Linked DNA regions of Homo sapiens. The protein of the gene in region 2 purifies or fractionates together with the protein of the main gene of each other region. This does not show direct contact. Each region holds a gene or a part of one and is shown on either strand. Other genes may lie near its edges.

Evidence for each region.
Region 1: the proteins of CD4 (region 2) and LRPAP1 purify together in Homo sapiens (affinity purification with mass spectrometry; one large-scale study listed by BioGRID and IntAct). This does not show direct contact.
Region 3: the proteins of CD4 (region 2) and ANXA6 purify together in Homo sapiens (affinity purification with mass spectrometry, with the first as the bait; one large-scale study listed by BioGRID). This does not show direct contact.
Region 4: the proteins of CD4 (region 2) and PCDH1 purify together in Homo sapiens (affinity purification with mass spectrometry; one large-scale study listed by BioGRID and IntAct). This does not show direct contact.
Region 5: the proteins of CD4 (region 2) and MME purify together in Homo sapiens (affinity purification with mass spectrometry, with the first as the bait; one large-scale study listed by BioGRID). This does not show direct contact.
Region 6: the proteins of CD4 (region 2) and FARSB purify together in Homo sapiens (affinity purification with mass spectrometry, with the first as the bait; one large-scale study listed by BioGRID). This does not show direct contact.
Region 7: the proteins of CD4 (region 2) and ZAP70 purify together in Homo sapiens (affinity purification with western blotting, with the first as the bait; one study listed by BioGRID). This does not show direct contact.

What each region holds. Positions count from the first base shown.
Region 1 is NC_000004.12:3,522,423-3,525,922, reverse strand, and holds part of LRPAP1 (alpha-2-macroglobulin receptor-associated protein precursor), read left to right. Parts: intron 1-871; coding exon 872-1,016; intron 1,017-3,500. UniProt on the Homo sapiens protein: Molecular chaperone for LDL receptor-related proteins that may regulate their ligand binding activity along the secretory pathway.
Region 2 is NC_000012.12:6,792,528-6,796,027, reverse strand, and holds part of CD4 (T-cell surface glycoprotein CD4 isoform 1 precursor), read right to left. Parts: intron 1-3,500. UniProt on the Homo sapiens protein: Integral membrane glycoprotein that plays an essential role in the immune response and serves multiple functions in responses against both external and internal offenses.
Region 3 is NC_000005.10:151,137,280-151,140,779, forward strand, and holds part of ANXA6 (annexin A6), read right to left. Parts: intron 2,965-3,500; coding exon 2,874-2,964; intron 2,169-2,873; coding exon 2,074-2,168; intron 1,513-2,073; coding exon 1,399-1,512; intron 43-1,398; coding exon 1-42. UniProt on the Homo sapiens protein: May associate with CD21. May regulate the release of Ca(2+) from intracellular stores.
Region 4 is NC_000005.10:141,854,411-141,857,910, forward strand, and holds part of PCDH1 (protocadherin-1 isoform 2 precursor), read right to left. Parts: intron 3,062-3,500; coding exon 2,842-3,061; intron 1,853-2,841; coding exon of another isoform or gene 1,827-1,852; exon of another isoform or gene 1,814-1,826; intron 27-1,813; coding exon 1-26. UniProt on the Homo sapiens protein: May be involved in cell-cell interaction processes and in cell adhesion.
Region 5 is NC_000003.12:155,111,319-155,114,818, forward strand, and holds part of MME (neprilysin), read left to right. Parts: intron 1-3,500. UniProt on the Homo sapiens protein: Thermolysin-like specificity, but is almost confined on acting on polypeptides of up to 30 amino acids. Biologically important in the destruction of opioid peptides such as Met- and Leu-enkephalins by cleavage of a Gly-Phe bond.
Region 6 is NC_000002.12:222,639,093-222,642,592, reverse strand, and holds part of FARSB (phenylalanine--tRNA ligase beta subunit), read left to right. Parts: intron 1-1,661; coding exon 1,662-1,731; intron 1,732-2,897; coding exon 2,898-3,013; intron 3,014-3,500.
Region 7 is NC_000002.12:97,723,576-97,727,075, forward strand, and holds part of ZAP70 (tyrosine-protein kinase ZAP-70), read left to right. Parts: intron 1-440; 5' UTR 441-461; coding exon 462-863; intron 864-1,516; coding exon 1,517-1,677; intron 1,678-3,500. UniProt on the Homo sapiens protein: Tyrosine kinase that plays an essential role in regulation of the adaptive immune response. Regulates motility, adhesion and cytokine expression of mature T-cells, as well as thymocyte development.

The DNA.
Region 1 (3,500 bases), on a different chromosome or scaffold from region 2:
TGAGAGCTGGCCGGTGGGTTTCATTCTGCTGCTTGCCTCGGCCGCCTGGCATTCTGGCCCAGTCTTTCTGACGTGGGGACACTCTTGGCCTAAATCCTGTCTTTGCAACCAAAAAGCAGTGTGCCCAGCGGTCACCTCACTTGCTTCCTTCTCTCACCCAGGGTCCCAGAGCTGGGAGGGCAGGGGTGGGATGAATGAAGCGTGGCCTGCCCTGCGGAGAGGGATGAGGGTGGGGCGGGGAAGTTCCTCAGCCCCAGTGCGGCAGCTCGTTCCGGGGCGCTGCCTGTGTGGTCTACGCCAGCAGGTAAGTGAGAGGGTGACAGATTCCTGCTCCAGAAGGATCTGGGGCTGTGTAAGAACCGTCTCAGCAAGACAGTTCGGATCATGGTACACTTGAGAGGTGGTGACTGAGGGTCTTTGGGAAATGAAGATGGGGCAGATCTGAGATTACAGTGATTTTTTTTAAAAAAGAACTTCTAGGTGTCTGTGTCCTTGCAATATGTATCTGCAATGGTAATGCAGTGGGTATCTTCTTCCTGCTCTGTTTATCCGAGTGCCCGATGACTGTCCTCAGGTGCTAGGGTGGGGTGTCCTGTTACAGCCGGACAGGAATGAGCAGCCGCTGCTGGTGGGGAGCCCCCGATGGACTTGGGGTTTCCGGATCGTGTATACAGACAGGCCTAGAGACTGGTGTCCATGTTGAGTTCTTGTCTAAACCTGTGGGGTTTGAATCCTGCTGACAGTGACCCTGACTCCACCTCTTCCTGGTCTCCCAGAACCTCCCGGTGGCCAGCCTCCTCCGAGGTCAGTTTCTCGCTGTGTCCTGGTCCGTCCTGCTCGTGGCTCACAGGCTCCTCCCCTTCGTTCGCAGCTGCATCTTCCTCCCGTGAGGCTGGCCGAGCTCCACGCTGATCTGAAGATACAGGAGAGGGACGAACTCGCCTGGAAGAAACTAAAGCTTGACGGCTTGGACGAAGATGGGGAGAAGGAAGCGAGACTCATACGCAACCTCAATGGTACGTTTGTTTCTTTCCTAATGCAGGTCGAGTATCCCTCTTCCTAAATGCTTGAGAGCGGCAGTGTTTTGGATGTCGGATTTTGTTTTTGGATTTGGGAATATTTGCATTATGCTTAATCTGGATATCCAAAATGAGCCTTTCCCCGAGCATCCTGAGTGCCCAGAAAGCTTAGGATTTGTGTTGGGGGCTCACCCTCATGAGGGAGGTGGCCACTGGCTTCAGTGTTTGGGGGGGCTAACCCTCATGAGGGATGGTGGCTGCTCGCCTCAGTGCTGTGGGCTACGCCTCTGACTCCTTGGCTTTTGGCCAAGGGGCCCATTGGGCACAGCCTGCGGGGGGCTATCCTCCGAGCACAGATGCGCCCTTGGCCGTGGTCTCAGTTTGCTGTCACAGATGCCATTGGCACGCCAGAGGGAGGGCCAAGGCAGGGGCTCTGGGTGCAGGAAGGGGCCGGAGGACAGCAGGAGGCTCTGTCACCCAGAGGAGGAAGCAGGTCTGCCCTAGCATCTTGAAGTTTTGGGGACATACTCCAGATGTCATCAGAATGGACACTTGGTTGTCATGCGCTTAGTGAGTCCTCGTCCCTGTGGGTATTCAAGAAGAGGCAGGACAGTCGCCTGCTTGGTACCAGCATACGGAAGACAGGTGTGTCCTCAGAGCCGGGAGGGTTTTAAATGACAGAGTTGCGACTGTTCCTTTTGGACCCCTCTCCTCCGCCATCCTCCCTCACCACGGGCCCGTCGGCAGGGCACTGGCGGGCAGAGGACGCACACCAGGTGGGCCCGTGGGACTGGGGTTGGGGCTGCTCCGGAGAGTCGAGTGCTCAGCTGCCTGCTGTCAGCTATGTGTAGCAGCCCTAGGAGCTGCTGTGCCTCCACCCAACTGCTGCCCCTGGGCCTGACCCCAGGCACCCCTTCCCCAATCCCCTCCCCCGCTGCTCCCTGTGTGACCTGGGCCCCCGGCACAGTCCCCTGCCCCCCACCTCCGTTTCCTCCTCCTGTCTCACAGGACGGTGGTGTGAACCAAGTGGGATACTCCCCACTGTGGTGGGGGTGGGGGTGGCTGCCATCGCACTTGTTGCTGTCGTGAGGGTGGCCCCAGAGCCCTGGCCATGTCTGGAGTCTGCTGTAGCCCTGCTTTTCACACGCGCTGATGGCCTCAGGCATTGCAGCGCCCGGGTTGTCTCTGGTAAAGAGAGGAGGTGTCTACGGAGTTCCTTCGTTAGGCCTGATGCTCTAACACCTACTCCTCAAAACTCGTTGTCGTCCCATTTGACAGGCTCAGAGAGGGTGATTTGTCTGGAGTTGCAGAGCCGAGTAGTGCAGCAAAGATTTGGAGTCAGGGTTTTCTGACTCCTGAGCAGGTGGTCTGTTCCCAGCCACCCCTCTTCTCCCATTGGCAGGCATCAGCAGACATGTCATGTGGCTGCGCCCGGGTTAAAGACAGAGGGCCGGCTTCATTTTTGCTGGTTTATGCCACCATGTTCAAGAGTCTGGTTGAGACGTAAGCCAAGATACGGCGGCAGGGACTGCCTGGGGAAGAGAGACATGGCTGAAACAATTCTGGATGGTTGCGTCCCCACCAGCGTGTCTAGTGGGCCATTCCCAAGGGCCAAGAAAGAGCCTGTCCTGGAGGTGCCCCCAGGAAGAAGGGACTGGCTATGCAGCAGGGCAGCATTCGGGGCCTGGAGGAGACAGAGTAGCTTGCAGGGGGCACAGAAGTGGGCTAAGAACCAGCTCCCTCCTGCAGGCCAGGCAGTGTCCTTGCAGGGTGTCCAGGTCTGTGGCCCAAGTGGAGCTGTCTTGTTTTCTGCCATTGCCTAGTGACCTGGCAGAAAACTTAGTGGGACTCTAGGAGCCGGCGTCCCAGAAGCAGACCCTGCCCACACTCAGGAAAGAGGCTCGTCCTGGCCAGTTCCCCGCCATCTTCTGGGTGTGGTCCCTGGACCCCCGAGGTCCCCCGTGCCATTATCAAGTGTGATACCATACCTGGGGGACCAGCCATAGCCAGGTGTGCCTGCCCTTGGCACCCTCCATGCTGAGGTCCACCCTGAGACAGACGGGCCACGCTCCACTCTGCCCTGCCCTGCTCTGCTCTGGGGTTCGCTCCTGTCCTCACCCCCACCGCGCCCCCAGGGCCACTTCACTCCCCAGGCAGGGAGTGTGGGGCGGCGTCCGTCCTCCCCAGGCAGGGGGTGTGGGGCGGCGTCTGTCCTCCCCAGGCAGGGGGTGTGGGGCGGCGTCCGTCCTCCCCAGGCAGGGGGTGTGGGGCGGCGTCTGTCCTCCCCAGGCAGGGGGTGTGGGGCGGCGTCCGACTTCCCCAGGCAGGGAGTGTGGGGTGGCGTCTGTCCTCCCCGGGCAGGGCGTGTGGGATGACGTCCGTCCTCCCCAGGCAGGGAGTGTGGGGCCGTGTTCATCCTCCCCAGGAGCTCTAAGGGCTCGGTGCTCCTGAGGCCGCCTCCAGCTTCAGTGCTCTGTGACT
Region 2 (3,500 bases):
CGGGTCACTGAAATGTATGCACACATCCAGCCCAGCCTGGATGAAGCCCAGTCGCCCCAATCCAAGCTGTTCATCCCCACGGGGCCCTGCCAGCCACTCTCCATCCTGTCTGTGGCTCTCCACCAAGGGGCTGACAGCCACACATGGCTCATAGGCTCTCTTGCCCTCCAGCACCAGTCGGGGCTGGCCAGTGGGAAGTGCCTTTCAGAGATGAGATGGAAGGGTGGGGGAAAGAAGCTGGGATATTTTTCCTACTCTATCCCTGCCCTGGGCATATTTTCTGTCAATAGCTGTGTGTTCATCCTCACCTGCAGCCCTGCCCCTCCACAGCTTCTGTGGGGTGGCCCCTTATCCAGAGTGCAAGCACTCTCTGGGTTCCAGAAACACCATTTTCACTTCTTCAGGACTCTTCCTGCTGTTAATAGTGTCTGTGCTTCAAATTGATTGATTCCCTTAACCTATGTGAATAACCCCCTTTCTACAATCTCTTGAACCATGGGAGGTGGACTGTGTTTCCTGCTGGGCACTAAGACACAATCTGTGGAGAGGAATGGGGCACTCAGAAGGTGTGGGGGCTTGGTCCTCTTACGGTGGTTTAGGAGAAGATAAGAAAAGTGACTCCATCTTTGTTAGCTGCCTCCAGTTACTCCATCTGCCTGGAAGAGGAGGTAGCCAGGGCTTAATACGTGGTAGGTGCTTGAGATAGACAGGTAGGTAGATAGATGGATGGACAGATAGATAGATAGATAAAATAGATTAGATAGACAGATTAGATAGATTAGATGATAGATTGATAGATTAGGTAAATAGATTAGATAAACATACAGACAGATTAGATAGATGATGAATAAGATAGATAAAATAGATTAGGTTAGACAGAAAGATAGATTAGATAGATAGATAGATAGATAGATAGATAGATAGATAGAGACAGACATTTAGGGACAGACACAGTGGCTCACACCTGTACTCCCAGCACTTTGGGAGGCTTAGGCGGGTAGATCACCTGAGGTCAGGAGTTCAATACAAGCCTGACCAACATGGTGAAACCCTTCTCTACTAAAAATACAAAATTAGCCGGGCACAGTGGTACGGGCCTGTAATCCCAGCTACTCCAAAGATTGAGGCAGGAGAATCGCTTAGAACCCAGGAGGCGGAGGTTCAGCAGTGAGCTGAGATCGCGCCACCGCACTCCAGCCTCGGCGACAGAGCAAGACTCTATCTCAAAAAAAAAAAAAAAACAAAAAAAAAACAGACATACAGACAGATAGATTAGATAAATAGATGATAGATAAGATAAACAGATAAAATAGATGAATTAGATTAGACAGTCAGACAGACAAGATAGATATATAAGGCCGGATGCAGTGGCTCACACCTGTAATTCCAGCACTTTGGGAGGCCAAGGCAAGTGGATCACCTGAGGTCGGGAGTACGAGACCAGCCTGGCCAACATAGTGAAATCCCATCTCTACTAAAAATACAAAAATTAGCTGGGCATGGTGACGCACGTCTGTAATCTCAGCTACTTGGGAGGCTGAGGCAGGAGAATCACTTGAACCCGGGAGGCGGAGGTTGCAGTGAGCCGAAATCACGCCACTGCACTCCAGCCTGGGCAACAGAGCGAGACTCCATCTCAAAAAAAAAAAAGATAGATATATGTCCAGGCACGGTGGCTCACGCCTGTAATCCCAGCACTTTGGGAAACCAAGGTGGGTGGATCACTTTAGGTCAGGAGTTGGAGACCAGCCTGGCCAACATAGTGAAACCCTATCTCTACTGAAAATACAAAAATTAGCCAGGAGTGGTGGTGGGTAGTCCCAGCTACTGAGGAGGCTGAGGTAGGAGAATCGCTTGAACCCGGGAGGCGGAGGTTGCAGTGAGCCGAGATCGTGCCACTGCACTCCAGCCTGGGTGACAGAGTGACTCTGTCTCAAAAAAAAAAAAAGATAGATAGATCAATAGATAAGATAGATACATAAAGATAGATAGACAGATATAGATAGATTAGATAGATAGGTGATAGATAGATAGATAGATAGATAGATAGATAGATATAGATAGATAGAAGCCGGGTGTCGTGTGTGGTGGCTCATACCTATAATCCAGCACCTTGGGAGGCCGAGGCAGGCAGATCACTTGAGGCCAGGAGTTTGAGACCAGCCTGGCCAACATCATGAAACCCCCGTGTCTACTAAAAATACAAAAAAATTAGCTGGGGATGGTGGCGGGCGCCTGTAATCTCAGCTACTTGGGATTACTTGTAGTGCCACTGCACTACAGCCTGGGCGACAGAGTGAGATTTTGTCTCAAAAAAAAAAAAGATAGATAGATAGATAGATAGATAGATAGATAGATAGATAGATAGATAGATAGATGATAGATAGATACAATTTTGTTTAAACCGGGGAAGTAGGAAGAAAAGAGGTCAGGAAGGAGGTTTCTGAAAAAGGAGGAAGGGAGACTAGCCACCAGTGATGGTGAAGTGTTTACAGGTTAGCATGCAGATGGGAGGCATCTAGGGGAAGGCTGCAGTGAGAAGAGTAGAATAGGAGTAGCCTCATACCAAAGAGTGGTTCCCACTGTCCCCCATCCCAGACTGACTGGGTCCTTGGTGAGCAGGGGATGAAAGAGGGGAAGTCTCCATAAACGATATCCCTTCTCTGGGGTCCAAATTCAGCTTACCCTGATAAGATGCCTGGGGAAGACTAGAGGCATTCTTGACCCTTCCCCATATGGTGGCTGTTTTGACTCCCCCAGCTCCATGGTCCTGAGGTATGTGCAGACAGCCACCTCCCTGCCTCCAGCTCCCTGTTCTGCCTCATCTCACCCCAAGGCTCTGCTAAGTGGAGGAGGCTGTGGGTTTCCAGCATGCTTGCTTTGGTGCTTTGGGCTTCCGCTGCCACCCCAGAGATCTGGCCTTTGATTCCCATACTCAGCGTCCCCAGAGGTGTCTTACCCTAGTACGGTAGCATCCTGTATACCAGCACTCCGAGAGAGGCTGGGAGGGCTCTCTGGTCCCTCAAGCCCTGGCACGTCTCTCTCTCTCTTTCTGTCTCTCTCTCTCCCTCCTTGCTTCTCAGCTCACATCTGTGCATTTCTGTATCTATGCTTCCCAGCCCCCAGCTTATGCCCCCAGCCTGCAGCTCCCTGTGTCTGTGTCTGTCTTCCTCTTTGCCTCATATACCAGGCGGCCGTGCTGGCTCTCCCGGGCTCCCCTGGAATGCCCCTTGCCTCTTCTCCTTTTTCAGCTTCCCCTCTCAGGCTGCCACTAAGCTCTAGCTCCTTCCGGTCTGTACACAGTCCTCCTGGCCTTTGGCAGCAATGCAGACCCTGGACAAGCTTTGATCTGTGGGGAGCCTGCCGAGCACGCCTGCAGCCCAGGGTGGATGTGAGGGAGCCGGCTGCAGGGTGGGAGGGACACATGGACAAAGGGAAATGGACAGAGTTCCCCAGAATGCACAGAGCCTCAAGGGAGGAGGGGAGGGAAAGATGTGGGA
Region 3 (3,500 bases), on a different chromosome or scaffold from region 2:
AGCCAAGATCTCAATGAGGCACTTCTCATCAGTGCCAATGCCCTGGGGGTAGAAAAAGAGCGCATGAATTAAGGGCAGGGATGGGAGGTCACTGGACACAGGTTGGGATCAGGGAGTGGCCAGAGCTATGACACCCCAGGACTCAGGAGGTTCCTACCCAGCTCTTAGGCACTGATTGGGAACTCCTGCCTTGAGACTCATAAGACATGGTCATATGATTTGGATGTGTTTCCCCACCAAATCTCATGTCGAATCGTAGACCTGAATGTTGGAAGTGGGGCCTGGTGGGAGGTGGTTGGATCATGGGGGCGGTTTCTCATGAATAGTTAGCACCATCTCCTTGCTACTGTTCTCACGATCGTAAGTTCTTGTGAGATCTGGTTGTTTAAAAGTATGTAGCACTTCCCCACCTCCCGCCTTGCTCCTGCTCCCACCATGTGAGATGCCTGCTCCCTCTTTGCCTTCTGCCAAGACTGGAAGCTTCTTGAGGCCTCCCCGGAAGCAGAAGCCACAATGCTTCCTGTTCAGCCTGCAGAACCATGAGCCAATTCAACCTCTTTTCTTTATAAATTACCCAATCTCAGGTGTTTCTTTATAGCGATGTGAGAATGGACTAAAACACAAAGGTTCTAGTTCTGCCTCCTCCAGCTTTGTGAATTCTCTTCAGAAACTATCTTTTTGGGCCTCAGTTTTCTCATCTGTAAAATGTAGATGATATTAGTTGCTCTGCCAAACTCACAGGGAGATTGAGAAGATAATAATCTCACATTGCTAAGTGCATCAGTTTATAAAATGAATTCATGCTTAATAGCTCATAGAAGACAAAGATCATAGCACTTTATAGACTGTAAAGTGCTAGATACACTTAAAGGGCTTTGCCTCTCTTTTTCCTAGGGGGCAATTCTCTACCTCTACCTCAACCGGGCTGAACTACTCTTCATACCCTAAACACAGATCCACAACTTCTCCTGCCATTTTTACACCCTGCAATGACCTTGACACTGCTATCCACCAAATCCTCTCTGGGCTTTGGGGCTTAACTTGATCCTATTATCCTTTAAGATGCCCTCTCAAACAACCCTTGGCCCAGGGTCATGTTGATTACCTTTAGTGTGCCCTTGGCCTCAGGAGTGTTGGACACAATTTGTCTCCATGTCCCTATAACCTGTATCCTTGGACTACAAGCTCCTGGTAAGGGGGTCTGCATCATGTTGACATCTGTCTGCATCTCTCTGTGTGCGGATCGGGATGCTCCTCTGGGATAAATTTAGATGTGTCTTTGAAGCAGGACACATGTGCTGGGTGGGTATGGGGCTCACCAGTTGCTTTTGGAAGAGCCCAGAATCTTCCCATTAACCACATCCCCACCCCAACACCACATACACCCCCACTTCTTACCGAGATGGCATCTTTAATTTCTTTGGCATCACAATAGGCAGGTGGCCTCATCAGGCCCACAATCAACCGTTCAAACTTGCCCGTCAATTCATACTTTAAATCAGCAATGAGGTCCTGGCAGGTGGGGAAGAAGAGGAGATAGAAGAGGAAAGAGGAAGAGTAGTTACAACGGTAAGAATTACACTTAATGAGCACTTACTCTGGCAGGTGCTGGGCTAAGTAATCTCATTAAATCATCACCCTTGGAGGTATGTACTGTTACCAACCCTAAGAGACAGGCTCAGAAACAACAGAGGTCTTACTCCATGTCATGCTGCTAGCAAACGGCTATGCAGGGTCAGGTCCACAGCCCTGTGCCACTTCCCCACCACTGTCTGTTTCCTCGTTTACTGTGTATCTCTCTCACTATCTGGCAGTCCACAGAGTTGACACCTCACCCATCTTATTCACTAGTGCAGCCCTAACACCTAGCACGAGCCCAGCATACAGCAGGTGCTGTGGGTGTATTAAAGGCTGAAAGACGCCCAGCTGATGAGAAGAAAAAGAGCAGGGTAAGGTGTCAGCCCACAGGCTAACCTGGAGTGCCATATCCAGGAAATAACCTGAACGAGCACACAGGTGAATGAAATCATTCTTCCACCCGCACCCCATGGGCCCTCCGGTTGCTGTGGTTACCTTGCCGTAGAGGGACTTGTAGCTCTGGCAGACCTCCTGCCTCTGCCTGTTGCTCCGTGAGGTGATTATGTCCAGTATGGCCTCCTTGTCACTGCCTGGAATAGGGGAGAGCAATCATCATCCTACCCACCCTGCCTCCAGGAAGCCCACCAGGGCCACTTCCTTCCCTGGACACAGGCCTAGTAGCTCCCTGCAGGCCTCAGCATGAGCCTTCCACTCATCAGGTGCTGGTGTCAGGGCAGAGGGTCATGGGGATTTATTAAGTCACGACTGAAAGTGGACACAGCACACACAATATCTGTGCTCAGAAGGCCCCTGATCCAGCTCCTCACTGCACAAATCAGGAAATTAAGGCCCAGAGAGGGGCAAGAACTTGTCCAAGGTCTCACAATGAACCTGGCTTAGAAAACCCAGGTATCCTAACACCCAGTACAGGGTTCTTTCCACCACAAGACAAAGAAGAACATAAGCACCACCTTCGGATTGTGGCTGCCTCTGGGCAAAGGCAGCGGGCGGCATTATCAGGAGGGGGATCTACCAAGGAAACTTCAACTATGCTAATGAAGCACTAGTTCTTAAATTTGGTGGTAAATCTATGGGTGAAATTTCTATTATTCTTTATACTTTTTTTCTGAAACATTTTATTATAACATCATGAAAATTAATAAAAAGAGGAGACCAAAAAAATGAATAAGTGCACTTCACCATTTCACAGACCCTACCACCACCACCAGAAGGGCTCTGGGCTGTGTCTACTTTTGGGGGATACCCCTCAAGCTCCCATGAAGCCTGGCACCCACCAAAGCCCTTCATGGCAGTGTACAGAGCCTCGGCATCCTGGTTGGGGTCAAAGCCTGGGAAGTCATGGATGGAGCCCCGGTACTTGGCACCCTGTGGAGAAAAAAGTAGAGGGTGAGCTGCCAACCCCGGACTGAGACCAAGCTCCCAGCCCCAACCTCAGGTCAGATGCCTACCCTGGTCCAGGCTGAGCTGCTTTCCCTGCAAAATCCAGTGCTGGCCACATACACCCTGGGGAGCGGTGTGGATGACTTTCCCATACCACCTGCTGCAACCCGCCCAAAGGACAGTGCCATTTCCCCAAGGGAGGGGGGCTTGGCCAAGGCCTGCAGCCCTGCACCACCTTCCAAAGCATCCAGGAGAGGGTAAAAAAGCCTGGCTGAGTATAGGAGATGAAAATGATCCCTGCAAGAATAGCAAGAGTCAAATATATATATATATATATATATATATATTTTAAGAGATGGGGTCTCACTCTATTGCCCTGGCTAGTTTTGAATGCCTGGCCTCAAGCAGTCCTCCCACATTGGCCTCCCAAAGTGCTGGGATTACAGGCATGAACCAGTGCACCCAGCCAGCCCCTCATATTTTTATGGCATTTTATGTTTACACTTTCACCTCTGTGAATG
Region 4 (3,500 bases), on a different chromosome or scaffold from region 2:
GGCGACATCAGGCAAAGGGCGAAGGTCTGTAGGAGGGAGCGGGGAAGGACAATTGTCAGACATACAGCCTCTGCAAAGCTCTGCTTCATGGCCTCCCACTGGCATCTACACCCCACCTCAGGACAGGAGTATGCGCCCCTTCCTGACCGCTGAACTCACAGGCACACACACCCTCAAAGAGACACATGCCCTCCCACCATCGACCTACTGGCCTACTGTACACACGCACACGCACACACACATAATCTATCTTTTTTCTTTTTCTTTTTCTTTGTTTTGAGATGGAGTCTTGCTCTTGTCACCCAGGCTGGAGTGCAATGGCGCAATCTCGGCTTACTGCAACCTCCACCTCCCGGGTTCAAGCAATTCTTTTGCCTCAGCCTCCCGAGTAGCTGGGATTACAGGCGCCCACCACCATATCTGGTTAATTTTTGGATTTTTAGTAGAGATGGGGTTTCACCAGGTTGACCAGGCTGGTCTTGAACTCCTGACCTCAGGTGATCCACCCACCTTGACCTCCCAAAGTGTTGGGATTACAAGCATGAGCCACCGCACCCAGCCTTATCCTTTTTTTTTTCAAGACAGGGTCTCACTCCTGTCACCCAGGCTGGAGTGCAGTGGTGTGATCTTGGCTCACTGCAGCCTCAATTTCCCAGGCTCAGGCAATCCTCCCACCTCAGACTCCCAAATATCTGTGACTATAGGCATGCACTACCATGCCTGGCTAATTTTTTATATTTTTTTGTAGAGATGGGGTTTAAGCCATGTTGCCCAGGCTGGTCTTGAACTCCTGAGTTCAAGCAATCCGCCTGCCTCAGCCTCCCAGAGTGTTGGAATTACAGGCATGAGCCACCAAGCCCTAAATAGACACATTCCTTCCAGCGTCACCTACCCCCCAGTGCTCTTCTTACACACCCACCAAATCTGCCCTCAGACAGGTGCACAAACACACACTCATCTACACACTGCCTCATCTATCTCCAGACAGACTTAAATGTGCAAATCTATCCTCAGGTGGGGTTGAGGAAACCTCCATCCTCATTGAATTGATTGACACAATCAACTCTCTCTCTCTCTCCCTCTCACACACACAGATAGGCATGGATACACAAATCTACTACAGTGGGCACCTCTATCCTCAGATGAAATTGGGTACATTGCTTCCTTCAGAACCCCCTCAAGCTTCACATGCTCCCGGTGGTCCTGAACCCACCCTCCTCCTGCAAGACCTTGCTTTAAAGCCAGGGGGAAGGGACGAGCTTCTGTGTGGGGTATTCACATAGAGGCACACACTCACATCCACAAGCACGCTCATGCAGCCCCTCCCCACCTCACTCTGGCCCCTAAACCAGCCACCACCCCTGGCCTTGCCCCAGCTCCCTGCCCAGAACACCCACGGGAACAGGAGTTGGCTGCCTGACATCAGCAGTAGCCGGTGTAGTTGCTGGGCAGCGGGGGTCTCCATGGGAACGGCTGGGCCATGAGTACTTCCTGTCACAGCTGTCCCTGTCCTGCCCTTGCTCAGGGACAGCACCAGGCAGTGACCCCCCCCCACCCCCAAGGGACATGGCTAAGCAACACTGCCTGGGACAGGGGCTCCCCTGGCACCACCCACTATGGCTTGGCCTCCTGCCAGTGCCAGGTGAGGAGGGGACAGCTCTGTTGTTAACCCTCAAAGTGCCAAGGCTCTACAGCTCAGAGCAGAGTTGGGGGACGCAACATGGCTCAGAGCAGAGCATGGGCACTGGGTGGGTGAGGCTGGGTGCTGGGCAGAGTCCCACAGACCCCAGACCCCAGAGCAGTTCCCACATACCTGGCACTCTGCCTCAGGGCCTGCTCCGGCCAGCCGGCTCTGCGCGGGCACAAAAAGGATGAGACGGGCATGAGATCGCGCATGGAGGGGCGGGGTGGGGGTGGAGGGCACTCTGAGACCTAGGGCCTGGGAGGTTAGACAAGGGCCCGGGAGGTTAGACAAGGGCCCTGTGCCTGAGGCAGGGGAGTGAAACCTCCCATCTTTTGTGGAGCGAGGAGGCTTTGAGTTGAGGGAGTGGGTGGGACCCGAGGACAACTCCAACTTAGAGAGTCTTTCCATCTCAGGGGTTAGCTCGTTCACTCTCCCCCTCCACAGGCTGCCATGGACGACTTCACACATGCACACGCACTGCACACACACTGACGGCACACCTCACCATCCATTCCCATGCCGACCTCTGCGCTGGCTCACACCTCCTTTTTGCCATCACCCTCCAAATCCCTCCCAGACAGGCCTTTCTCTTCACCAGACCTCCTACCGCGCTCTTCCTCAAAGAGGTGCCAAACCTTCTCCCACTCCTCACCCCAGCATATCGTCACTCCATTCTCTGAGCCCCCTGTAGCATCCAGGGCCCAATCTCTATTCTCAAGGCCTTCCCAACCTTAGAGGACCACCACCCACCTTCTCAAGGTTTCCTCACCATTACGTGAGCTTTCTGGCCACCACACTCAGGGTCCCTGTTCCCAGGTGGCCGTGTAAACATGGTGCCGAATGCAACAGCTTTGGAGTCAGAGAAACCTGGGTTTGAATCCCTCCCAGGTCTGTCACGTTCTAGATGTATGACTTTGGGCAAGTGACTTAACCTCTCTAAGCCTCAGTTTCCTCCACTGTAAAGTGGGTGCCATAAAGTTCTCAAATCACAGAGTGGTTCTGGGGATTAAATGCGTGTATACCTGAAAGCCCTCAGCACGGTGATGATGACTGAGCACATAATAACTCAATACATAGATGATTTGTTTAAGGCCTTGTCACCATTCCCAGGCTTCCACTCATTCCTGGGGTGCCCTGACCATGGTGCTGCGCCTCACCATTCTCGGGGTGCTCCATCTCTCCTATGCTGCCATCAGGGGTGGTGCGCTCATAGTGATCCTCAGGCAGGGCCAGGGGACCGAGTCGAGGCCCTGAGGATGACTTGCTGGACGGCGTCTCAGACTCCTCCAGGCCACTGTCATAGTAACTGTGCTGGGATGGGTCCTGCAGCTCCTGGGCCTGGCTGGTGGCCGAGAAGGTGACGCGGCGGTGAGGTAACTGCAGGGAGACAGATTGTCACTACTGACCAGCCAGCTTGCCCACAGGGCCCACCACCATACCAGGCCCTAGTACAAGCCAAGCACCATCCTACTCAGGCTTCAACAGCAACCAAGAAGAGACCCAGGCCCCAGCACAGCACATTCCTCCCGAAAGCACAGGCCCCAGTGAAAGACAGCTCCTGAGTTCTAGGACCGCTCCTAGTACAGCCAAGTCCACATACTGGAAGTCCCAATACAGCGCAGGCCCCAGTGTTATTATAGCCCCTATGCTACCCCAATAACCCTCATCCAGTGCAACCGCTTGTTATAGCACAACCCTTCTAGTTCTAACCCAGCTTCCCAATATTGGCACAGCCTCCCTTTAATCCCAGAATGACCTGTAATACGGTGTAGAGCCCAATACCAGAGTAACATAATACCACCCGACTCCCCTAATT
Region 5 (3,500 bases), on a different chromosome or scaffold from region 2:
ATATTCATCAGAACAGAGAGCGCTCTTTGAAGTGATTGGATGCATCCATGCTCAGACAAGCTCGGTGGTCAAAGGGAAATTTTAAAGAGTGGCCCTGGAAGGAGTTAGCAAAGTTGCCTCTTCCTCTCTCTGCTCTGCACATCCCTCACAAACTGAATGTTATTTCTTTGGTTTGTTGTGCAGATGCAAGTAATTTAACTGTACTTTTTGCCCCCTGGGAGATGTGGGAAGTACAGTTGCTTTTACAGGATGGAGAATTTGCACTCATGATCAGAGAACTGAAACTTCCAGCCATCCTTTTTATTCAGAGTGTTTAAGGACCGGTGGTATTTCCAAATAGGCAGTAGGGCTTGTTCATGCTCTGCTTGTTCATTCTGCTTGTTCATTAATTGTTCACTACTTTTCTGAGTAGAGTTCATTGCTCTGTGATGTCGTGACAGAAGCTTTCATTTCCCCAGAAAGAGGAAGAAAACAGAAGTGCCCCCTCCAAATGGCATAGCCTTCACAACATTCAGTTTAAATGTTTTTAAGTATCTTAAAAGAGAAGAGTTATATATTGCTAAGTGTGTTCTTAGAATGTCTGTAGTTAGCACTTCTTTCAGGCTCTAGTTTTCTGGTTTTTCACTTTACATAATAATCCTCTATGTATTTAGGATCTTTATTTTTCACCTTTCCCGTTACCATATTTTTATTTCCTTCAAAATTCGAGGGAATTGCTTTTTCTCTCTACCTTTTTTAGATCAGTTTCCTAGTCTTTAACTGAGGTGTTAAAGTTGGAGTTTTTACTGGCAAGTCTTGACTGAGCACAGTGTTAGGCTCTGTGAGAGAGAATATGCATTTTCTATTTTCACAGAGCCACAGTCCAGGTGAGGAGATAATGAATTTGCATGCGAAAAATGAATATGTTGTGAGCTGATACAGACTTTTGTCAGGCCAGTCTTTCATAAAGAAGTATTTGGAATGGGCTTTGAAAATGCCTGAAATTCCAAAATGAAATAATATGAAATAATATTTATTAGTACGTATAGGGGCTGGGTAACATGCTCAAAGTTACAGAGGCAGAAAACCATAAGGTGTCTCACAGAAACTGAATATACTCATTTAACTGTGACAGATGGCTCATGCGAGAAAGTAGCAAAGGAGAAGCTTCATTCGTTCTATTAGTGTTAGAATGTGCTATGGAATCTGGATTTTATTATGATTGCAAAAGGATGGTATTGAAAACTTTGGAGTGGAAAATGACATTCTGAAGTATTTTGAGAATATGAATCTGCCTGTGGAGTACAGAATGGACATAGGTAAGAAGAGGCCTGGGGCCACAACTTTGTCAAAAGGGCACAAATAGAGTCTGAGAGAAAGAGGGTTTGAGACAGAATGGAAACAATGGGAAAGATGGAATGGACTCTGGAGGCAATGAACTGAGAACGGATCTGACCTCTGTGGCAAGGGGAGAGGAGGTGAGTGATGGGCTGTAAGAGAAGGTGGTAAGAAGACTCATAGATGATTCAGTCACACATAACCATAATTGCACCCCTGTTACCTAGGTGCTAGGTGATACAAAGAGATTAATCACATCAACAAAATGGTTAGGTAGACAGAGTAGGTATTTACAATGAAAAACTCAAAGTAGTCTCACATTGAAGACAGAGTGAGGCAATGAGCTCTCAGGAGTCAAGAGAAATATTCCTTGAAGTTTGGAGTCACAGAAGCATCAGGGAAGAGATGGAACATGAGCTGAATGTTGAATGATGGGTAGAATTTGGAAAGAATGACAGGGGCAATCAAAGCTGTGGGATGAGGAGGTTAAAGCAAAGACACAGGACTAAGAAAACACAAGGAGTGTTTGTGACACATTGACGAGGGCCATCTGGTTGGAACAGAGTTTGCATAAACCACCAAAAGAGGAAAAGGGGAAGGTAGGGTGATACGTTTATTCTGGTAAAGGTTTAGACACCAAGCTAAAGATTTTATTTTTATTTCTGAGATAGTCTCTCTCTGTCACCCAGGCTGGAGTGCAGTGGCGCTGTCTTGGTTCACTGCAACCTCCACCTCCCGAGTTCAAGCTATTCTCCTGCTTTAGCCTCCTGAGTAGCTGGGACTACAGGTGCCTGCCACCATGGGCAGCTAATTTTTGTATTTTTAGTAGAGTTGGTGTTTCATCATGTTGGCCAGGCTGGTATTGGACTCCCAAAGTGCTGGAATTACAGGCGTGAGCCACTGTGCCCTGCCAAGCTTTTATAATTTAACCTGGGAAATGTCAAGCCACTGACATTTTTCAGCAAGGTTGTGGCCAGTGTCAAAGAGTCTTTCGGGAAGTTTGGTTTGTGGAAGATGTGTAGAATATATCAAGATGAAGAACTGGGTGACTTCTAGTCAAAAAGGAATGATGATATAAACCAGGTACCAATCAGAATGAGAGGTATGGAAGAGGGGCAAAGGAATTACCAGTAAACCAAGGGGAAATAGAAATACAGTTTTACCCAAAGTTTCAAATCCAGGAGGCTATGATAGCAACTGTGCTGTATACTAAGGCATACAACTCATGAGATGACTGGTTTGGTAACAGTCCTGAGCGTTTTGTTTTAAAGAGCTGGGTCCTGAGGTTCCAGACAAGCAAACATGCCAAAAAAGTGGTTCAATGGGGGGGCTTGAGGCTCAGCTGGAAACCATGTTTACCATACCAAGTTTAAAAAATCCACACAGCTCAGCAATTGTTTGAAGTTTTTAATTAATTAATTAATTCATAAAGTGAAGTATTTTCAAAAGCTCATCTGAGAGCTTATATTCTCTTGATACAGATGAATTCTCAATTGCTCTTTTGTTTTCATTGCAAAACAGTTCAACTTGTATGAGACTCAAAGTGGGGAGGGCAGGAGCAGAATTTTCTCTGTTCCGGGTATAGACATTATGGGTATTGGGCCATATTCTCCTCTTCGTTGGTAATAATTCCTATTTTATACATCTTTCTATCAATTGCAGCTCCTACCAGAGTCAACGTCTTGATTGTAAATACTCAGTGTTGGTTGATTTGCATTTTCATCATAGTCCTGAAAGATAAAAGTGGACCTAAGAAAAACTAATAAGCTTACAGCCAGTTTTATAATGACAGACTCTATATAAACAAATGCAAATTGGATGTCAAATTTGAATTACAAAATTTATTTGAGCAAGGTCCAGGAAGTAATAACAGTGTCTTCAGATCTTTTCTAAAATGATAAAAATTCATTAACAATCTTCCATGGCTTGGAGTCTCAGAGACTTTCAAAAGTCACAGCACTTTGAAGAGCAGAGTTGGCAACTAAAGTTATCAGAGTGAAGAATGGCATGCTAACCTCAGGTGCAGGATGGCCAACTCAAAGTAGACCTCTATTCTTTGTTCTTCTGAGATAGGAACTAGCCAGAAACTTAGTTATTCAGGGGTGGGGTGGGAAGGCTGTGGGACCCAGGGTGGAAGGACCCACACAGTTCAAAATAAAACGAACCAACTATAGTGAAGGAAA
Region 6 (3,500 bases), on a different chromosome or scaffold from region 2:
AAAAAATTATTTAGCAGGTGTGTGTGATTCCCCTCCGTGATCTAATTGGAATGAGTAGTTCACTGGATGTGTTAAAAGTTGAGAGGAAATGGAGAGCTAGCAATAAATACCCTTACATTATGAGTTCTAAGGAAGCTCAGGAGTGAAGCCTCCTAACTGGAAAAACCAAAGATCTTATGACGGCTCTGTGATCTTGAGCAAGTTAGTTGGCCTCTCTAGTTTCAATTTCCTAATCTATAATGAAGAAGATTTATAAGGCCCCTTCCAGCTTTTCATTTAATGAAGATAGAGGGGCTGGACATGGTGGCTCATGCCCATAATCCCAGCACTTCGGGAGGCCGAGGCTGGTGGATCACTTGAGGTCAGGAGTTCAAGACCAGCCTGGCCAACATGGTGAAACCCCGTCTCTACTAAAAATATGAAAATTAGCCAGGCATAGTGGCGTGCACCTGTAATCCCAGCTACTCAGGAGGCTGAGGCACAGAATCGTTTGAACCTGGGAGGTGGAGGTTGCAGTGAGTCGAGATTTGCACCACTGCACTCCAGCCTGGGCAGCAGAGGGAGACTCTGTTTCAAAAAAAAAAAAAAAGATAGAGGATAACAAATATATACAGTGAAAAAAATGAACAGCTATTAAAAATTGTTTTTATTTTTGATTACTTCTTCATTATCTGGTCAGCTGCAAAAGAATAAGAGTTCTAACTGATGGGCTAGATTCTGAAATTGTGAGGGTTTAGGTGAGTGATGGGTATTGGTGAAATGGTGATAATTAGGCATTAGGTTAAGGATGGTTAAAATTTTAGAGTTGACTCAGTTGGTTTCCTATGGGACAATCAGATGCTTTTATTTTAGGATCAAGGATAACTCCTGAGAGTTCGTTTCCCAAACCTGCCCAGTGAGAATCTGTATTTTTACCAGTCACCTTGTGATTTTTATGATCAGACAGAATTAGGAAAGCAACTTAAAATGTTTTCTACTTAAAGTGAGTCCATGGACCAGCAGCATCTGAATCACATGAGAACTTACTAGAAATGCAGTCTTAGTCGCCACCCAACACCTATTAATCAGAATCTGTGGTTTAACAAACTCCCCAATTGATTGTAAGCACATTGAAATTTGAGAAGCACTGCCTTAAAACAGTAGTTCCCAACTTCTCCCTATGATAAGAGTTCCCTAGAGATGCCTTCAAAATGCACCATTTACCAAATCTTTGTCTTCACTTATTTTATTCAGTAGGGCCAGATGGAACCAGGGAATCTGTATTTTCCATAAGCTCTGTTTCTTCCTAGAAGCTCAGAATCTCATGGTTAGAATAACTATCATAACTTAAAGGTTATCTAATCCAGTCCCTCAGCTGATGTTGAAATGCTCCTTAAACGGTTGCTCAGTTAATGGTTTGTAGCCTCTGCTGGGATGCTAGTGATAGGAAATACATTACTATGAGGCATCTTATGTCATTTTTGGACAACTTTAAATGTTAAAAAGTTTGTTAGTTTTTTTTTTTGTTTTTTTTTTTTAGTGTTCAGCCAAAATTTGACTTGCTGTAACTCAACCCATTGCCCTAATTCATTTTGTATACTTCCTATATACAGCATAGAATGTAATTATTTTATATAATGTCTTGATTAATTATGAGTAAATTCATTTAAATATTATTTTAGGATAAAGGCTCCAGTGTATAAACGGGTAATGCCTGATGGAAAAATCCAGAAATTGATTATCACAGAAGAGGTAATAAGGACAAATTCTTATTTTTCTTTTAAAAATTTTCTTTTGTACATGTCTGTATAAAGTGGGGAGGAAAGAGAAACAAAGCTTACTCTTTTTTTTTTGTTTTGAGACAGGGTCTGGCTCTTTTGCCCAGACTGGAATGCAGTGGTGCAGTCTTGGCTCACTGCAACCTCTGCTTCCCAGGCTCAAGTGATCCTCCCACCTCAGCCTCCTGAGTATTTGGGAGTACAGGCACACGCCACCACACCCGGCTAGTTTTTTGTATTTTTTAGAAATGGGGTTTCACCATGTTGCCCAGGCTGGTCTCATTCCTGAGCTCAAAGGATACTTCCCCTGCAGCTTCTTGAGTATTTGGGAGTACAGACACACGCCACCACACCTGGCTAATTTTTTGTATTTTTTAGAAATGGGTTTTCACCATGTTGCCCAGGCTAGTCTCAAATTCCTGAGCTCAAAGGATCCTTCCCCTGCAGCTTCTTGAGTATTTGGGAGTACAGGCACACGCCACCACACCCAGCTAATTTTTTGTATTGTTTAGAAATGGGGTTTCACTATGTTGCCCAGGCTGCTCTCAAATTCCTGAGCTCAAAGGATCCTTCCCCTACAGCCTCCTAAAGTGCTGGGATTATAGCTGTGAGCCTCTGTGCCTGGTCCAAAGCTTACCCTTCTAAAAAATGTGATTTTCTTTGATCATTTGCTAAAATGATTATATACTTAGCCCCTAGCCCTTAAAAAAACATTTTTTTTTAACCTAGGAATGAAAAAGAACAAAGCCTTTGCTTTCCATAAATAATTTTGGATAATAATATCCAATGCATGTTTAAAACACATTTGAGATATAATTGTTTAAATTGTGGAACATTAATGAAATTTTAAAAGATTTTAAACTTTTCAGAGGGGTTGTTTGGTAAATATATGAATTATGAGCAAACTTTTTCTCAATTATTTAATACATTTTCAGAAATCTTACTGAAATATAAATTCTGTGAAGGTAGTGACTTTTTCTCTTGTTTACCACTTTATTACTTGTTGACTGAATAAATTAATATATACTTGTTTGAATGAAAATGTATGCCAGTGGCAAGAATGCAGCTACCTTCCTATTACAAGATATTACAAAGAAAAGCCTTACTGTTTGCTATCTCTAATGATATTATGAATTTCAGACAGCTAAGATACGTCCTTTTGCGGTAGCAGCAGTTCTCCGTAATATAAAGTTTACTAAAGATCGATATGACAGCTTCATTGAACTTCAGGAGAAATTACATCAGAATATTTGCAGGTTTGTGGTTGCATTTTCTTTCTTCCTTGCCTTCCCCTTTCCCTTTGTCTCCCTATCTCCTTTCCATCCTGATCCCTCTCCCTCTTCTCTCTTGCCACTTCTGCCTTCTTTCTCTCTCTCTCCTTCCTTTCTTCCTCTGCAGATTTTTTACAAATCATTTCTAAATTAATAGTATGTGACAGAATATGAGAATTTCACTTTGCTTTACCAGATACCTTTTACTGCTTGTAAATGCCATATGCATGGAGAAACAGGAGGTATATTTTGAATACTGTATAGAGAAGAATTATCTAGTCCTAGAGACTTCCCTGCTTTTTGTTGTTGTTGTTTTGGTTCAGATCAGTCGTGGATTATGCTACTAAGTATAAACCGTGTTAATGAAGTATGATATATCATTTTTAAAATGGAAATAACATTTTGGCTTATTCTCACTTTTTGAGTGAGAGTAATTATAAATTGACAGAACTTGAGTTTAAATGACTAAATT
Region 7 (3,500 bases), on a different chromosome or scaffold from region 2:
ATTATTATTTTTGTTTCTTTCTCAGTTTATCTCACGGCTCTCCCTCCTTAGAGTGTTGCCTTCGGGAGGACGGGGTGGGACCGCGCCTGCCTCAAGCGTGCATATCCCCAGCACCGGGCCTGAAACACAATAATTCAGCACGTGGTTGGGACATGAAGAGATGGGTACAGGTGTGGGTGCTTGGGGACCAGTTGGCGTGCTTGGGCGTCCACATAATGTCTCTGGAAAGTCAGATGGGGGTTTGGGACTTCTCGATCTGTGCCCAGCAGGCTGCGGCTTCTCTCCAGGTTGACTCTGGCACAGAGCAGGCTCTGCCCCCTTGGCGAGCTCAGTCTGCGGCACTGATGCCCTCCACTTGGCGTCTCTCGCGCCGTCTTTGGGCCCAACGCACCAGGTTCAGGAAGGCCCTGACGTGCCTCCGACCCTCTGTGAACCCGCAGGTTTCGGGAGGCCCAGGGGCGATGCCAGACCCCGCGGCGCACCTGCCCTTCTTCTACGGCAGCATCTCGCGTGCCGAGGCCGAGGAGCACCTGAAGCTGGCGGGCATGGCGGACGGGCTCTTCCTGCTGCGCCAGTGCCTGCGCTCGCTGGGCGGCTATGTGCTGTCGCTCGTGCACGATGTGCGCTTCCACCACTTTCCCATCGAGCGCCAGCTCAACGGCACCTACGCCATTGCCGGCGGCAAAGCGCACTGTGGACCGGCAGAGCTCTGCGAGTTCTACTCGCGCGACCCCGACGGGCTGCCCTGCAACCTGCGCAAGCCGTGCAACCGGCCGTCGGGCCTCGAGCCGCAGCCGGGGGTCTTCGACTGCCTGCGAGACGCCATGGTGCGTGACTACGTGCGCCAGACGTGGAAGCTGGAGGTGAGAGCGCAGCCTGGGGCGCGGGGTCTGGAGGGGCGTGGCCGAAGAGGGGCAGTCGAGGGTTTTGGGGGGATAGGAGGGAGGAAAAGGTCGTCTTCCCCATTCAGTCCCCTTTGGAAGCTGGAGAGGTGGGGCACTGGTTGGGGAAGAACCTGAAAGGAGGCCTCAGAGGCAGGGGCTCCGTGGTGGCGGTCGCCTTCCGCAGGCTGAGCGATGCTATGGTGCTCTACTATGCCAGATGGGAAGGTAGAGGGACGCACTGGGCCGGGCGAAGGCGAGGCTTGGAATGGGGGCGGGGCTGAGAGGAGGGTGCGCGGGGCTAGGGTGAGCCCTTAGGGTAGGGTGGCTGTTGGGGAAGATGGGCAGTAGTCGTCCACAGCCTGAGTGACACCACCATGCACAACTACCTGAATTAGGTCTTCAAGCTGGAGATGCGCTTGGGGCCGCGCTGGAAGGTGGGGGTGGTTCCTCCCTAGCTGGATTGGGGAGGGGACCACGGAGATGGCGCGGAGGTAGTCCTCGAAAACCTGCCTAACACGCGCTAGGGACGCCTGGGTGGGGTGGGGAGTCCTCTGGGACAGGGCTCCCGGAAGGGGGTTCCTGTGGCGAGCACTTGGCCACACCTACAGACCTCCTCGCCTCTCCTTTTCTAGGGCGAGGCCCTGGAGCAGGCCATCATCAGCCAGGCCCCGCAGGTGGAGAAGCTCATTGCTACGACGGCCCACGAGCGGATGCCCTGGTACCACAGCAGCCTGACGCGTGAGGAGGCCGAGCGCAAACTTTACTCTGGGGCGCAGACCGACGGCAAGTTCCTGTATGTGGGGCCCGGGATTTGGGTGCGGTGAGGATTGGGGCTCGTTGGCAGGGATCCTGGGGACTGGGGCAGACGTGAGTGTGCAGTTGGGCCGTAAGGGTGTCCCTGTGCTCACATGTGCAAGTGGGTTGTGTGTTTCTGATGTGCAAAGGGACTTGCACATGGGGAAGTAGAGGTAGTGACTAGGAAAGCCTCCAGACTCGGTCCCTTGGCCTGGCTTGGAATCCCGCTTCCGCCACCTGCTGGCTGTGGCCCTTGGGCAAGTAGCGGACTGTGGTTGCCTGCCTCAGTTTCCCCTCCTTCAATCAACAAATATTTACTGAATACCTACTGTGTACCAGGCACTGAGCACACGGCAGTGAGCCAAAAAGACACAGTGCCTGTCCTCATGGGGCAGGTAGACAAGAAAAGGAATCAATAAAATAGAGACCCTGTCAGATGGTGGTAAGCGCCGTGTGTGCAGGTGGGGAGGCGGTTGCAATTTTAGATTAGGTGGTCAGAAGAGGCCTTCCTGAGAAGGTGACTTCTGAGGAAGGGAAAGAAGCTGAGGAGTGAGCTGTGCAGCTTTCAGGGGGAAGGGTGTTCCTGGAAAATGCAATGGCAAGTGCAAAGATCAGGAGGCAGGAGTCTATTTGGCGTGTTCCAGAAACATTGTGGAGGCCATGTGCCTGGAGCTGAGTAAGTGAGGGGGAGAATGGGAGGAGGTGAGGGCAGGGCGGGGACTTTAGCTTTTCCCCCAAGTGAGGTGGGATCCCCGGGAGAGTGTTGAAGCAGCCCCCTCTAACTGTCCTGTGGTTGACAGCAGTACCTCCCCTCAGGATCCTCTATGAGGATTACATGAATTAATACGTGTGAATCGAGAGTATGGTAACTGACATAGGAAAAATGCGGTAAATGTTAGCTTTTATATGTGGGTGAACGTGCGTGTCTGAGCCACAGCTGAGGCCATGTAGCTATTTGTGAGTTTGTTAATGTGAAAAAAATCTCTGAAAATCTCTTTTTAAAACTCTGCTGAGTGTTTGACAGCCCTGCTGGGGCTGTTGCTCTCTGGTTTGGACACGGGATCTTTTCTGTAACAGATGGTATCCAGGTGCAGCTGAGGTCACTCAGGCCTCAAGACACAGATAAATTGGTGCTGCCTCTTTCCCATGACCTCAGGAAGCCCAGTGTTTTCCCCCAAGAAATCTGTGGGGACAATTCTTGGGCCTTCCTTCTCGTGAGTGCTTCTTGGCCTGAGCCCCTGCCCAGCAGATCCCTTGGGTCATCTGCCTCCCCCAGGGCTGTTTCCTCTCCTGAGGTCAACCCACTTGGAGGAAATGACCACATCCCTTGATTTTCCTCACCCATGTGAAGTTTCTGTAGATTGCCTGCAGGCCTCTTGCAAGATGCAGCTCCCTCTCCAAGATTCTGTTGTGGGCTGATAAAATAACTCTTTTCACCCTACCATACAGATTCAGATTTAGGCTGTAAATTGGAGTGGAGTTTCCAAGGCTTCTGAGGGAGCTCTTAGATACATGTTGCACGTAATACTCAGTTGCCGGCACAACTTCTGAACAGGACAGGGCTGTTTTCTCTAAGAGGAAACCTTTGCATTTGTATCAGTTAGCTTTTGCTACATAACAAGCAGCCCTAAGATTTATTGGCTCAAAATGACAGTTTATTGCTCTTCATGATTCTGTGAGCTAACTAAGCAGTTCTGGTTTGGGTCATCTAGGCTGGGCCTGAATAGGCTGGGATGGCCACACTCACATGACTGGCCATTGGCTCAGTGTCACCTGGGTGATGGGGATGAGCTGGCCCAGTGCAGCCATCATCCAGCAAGC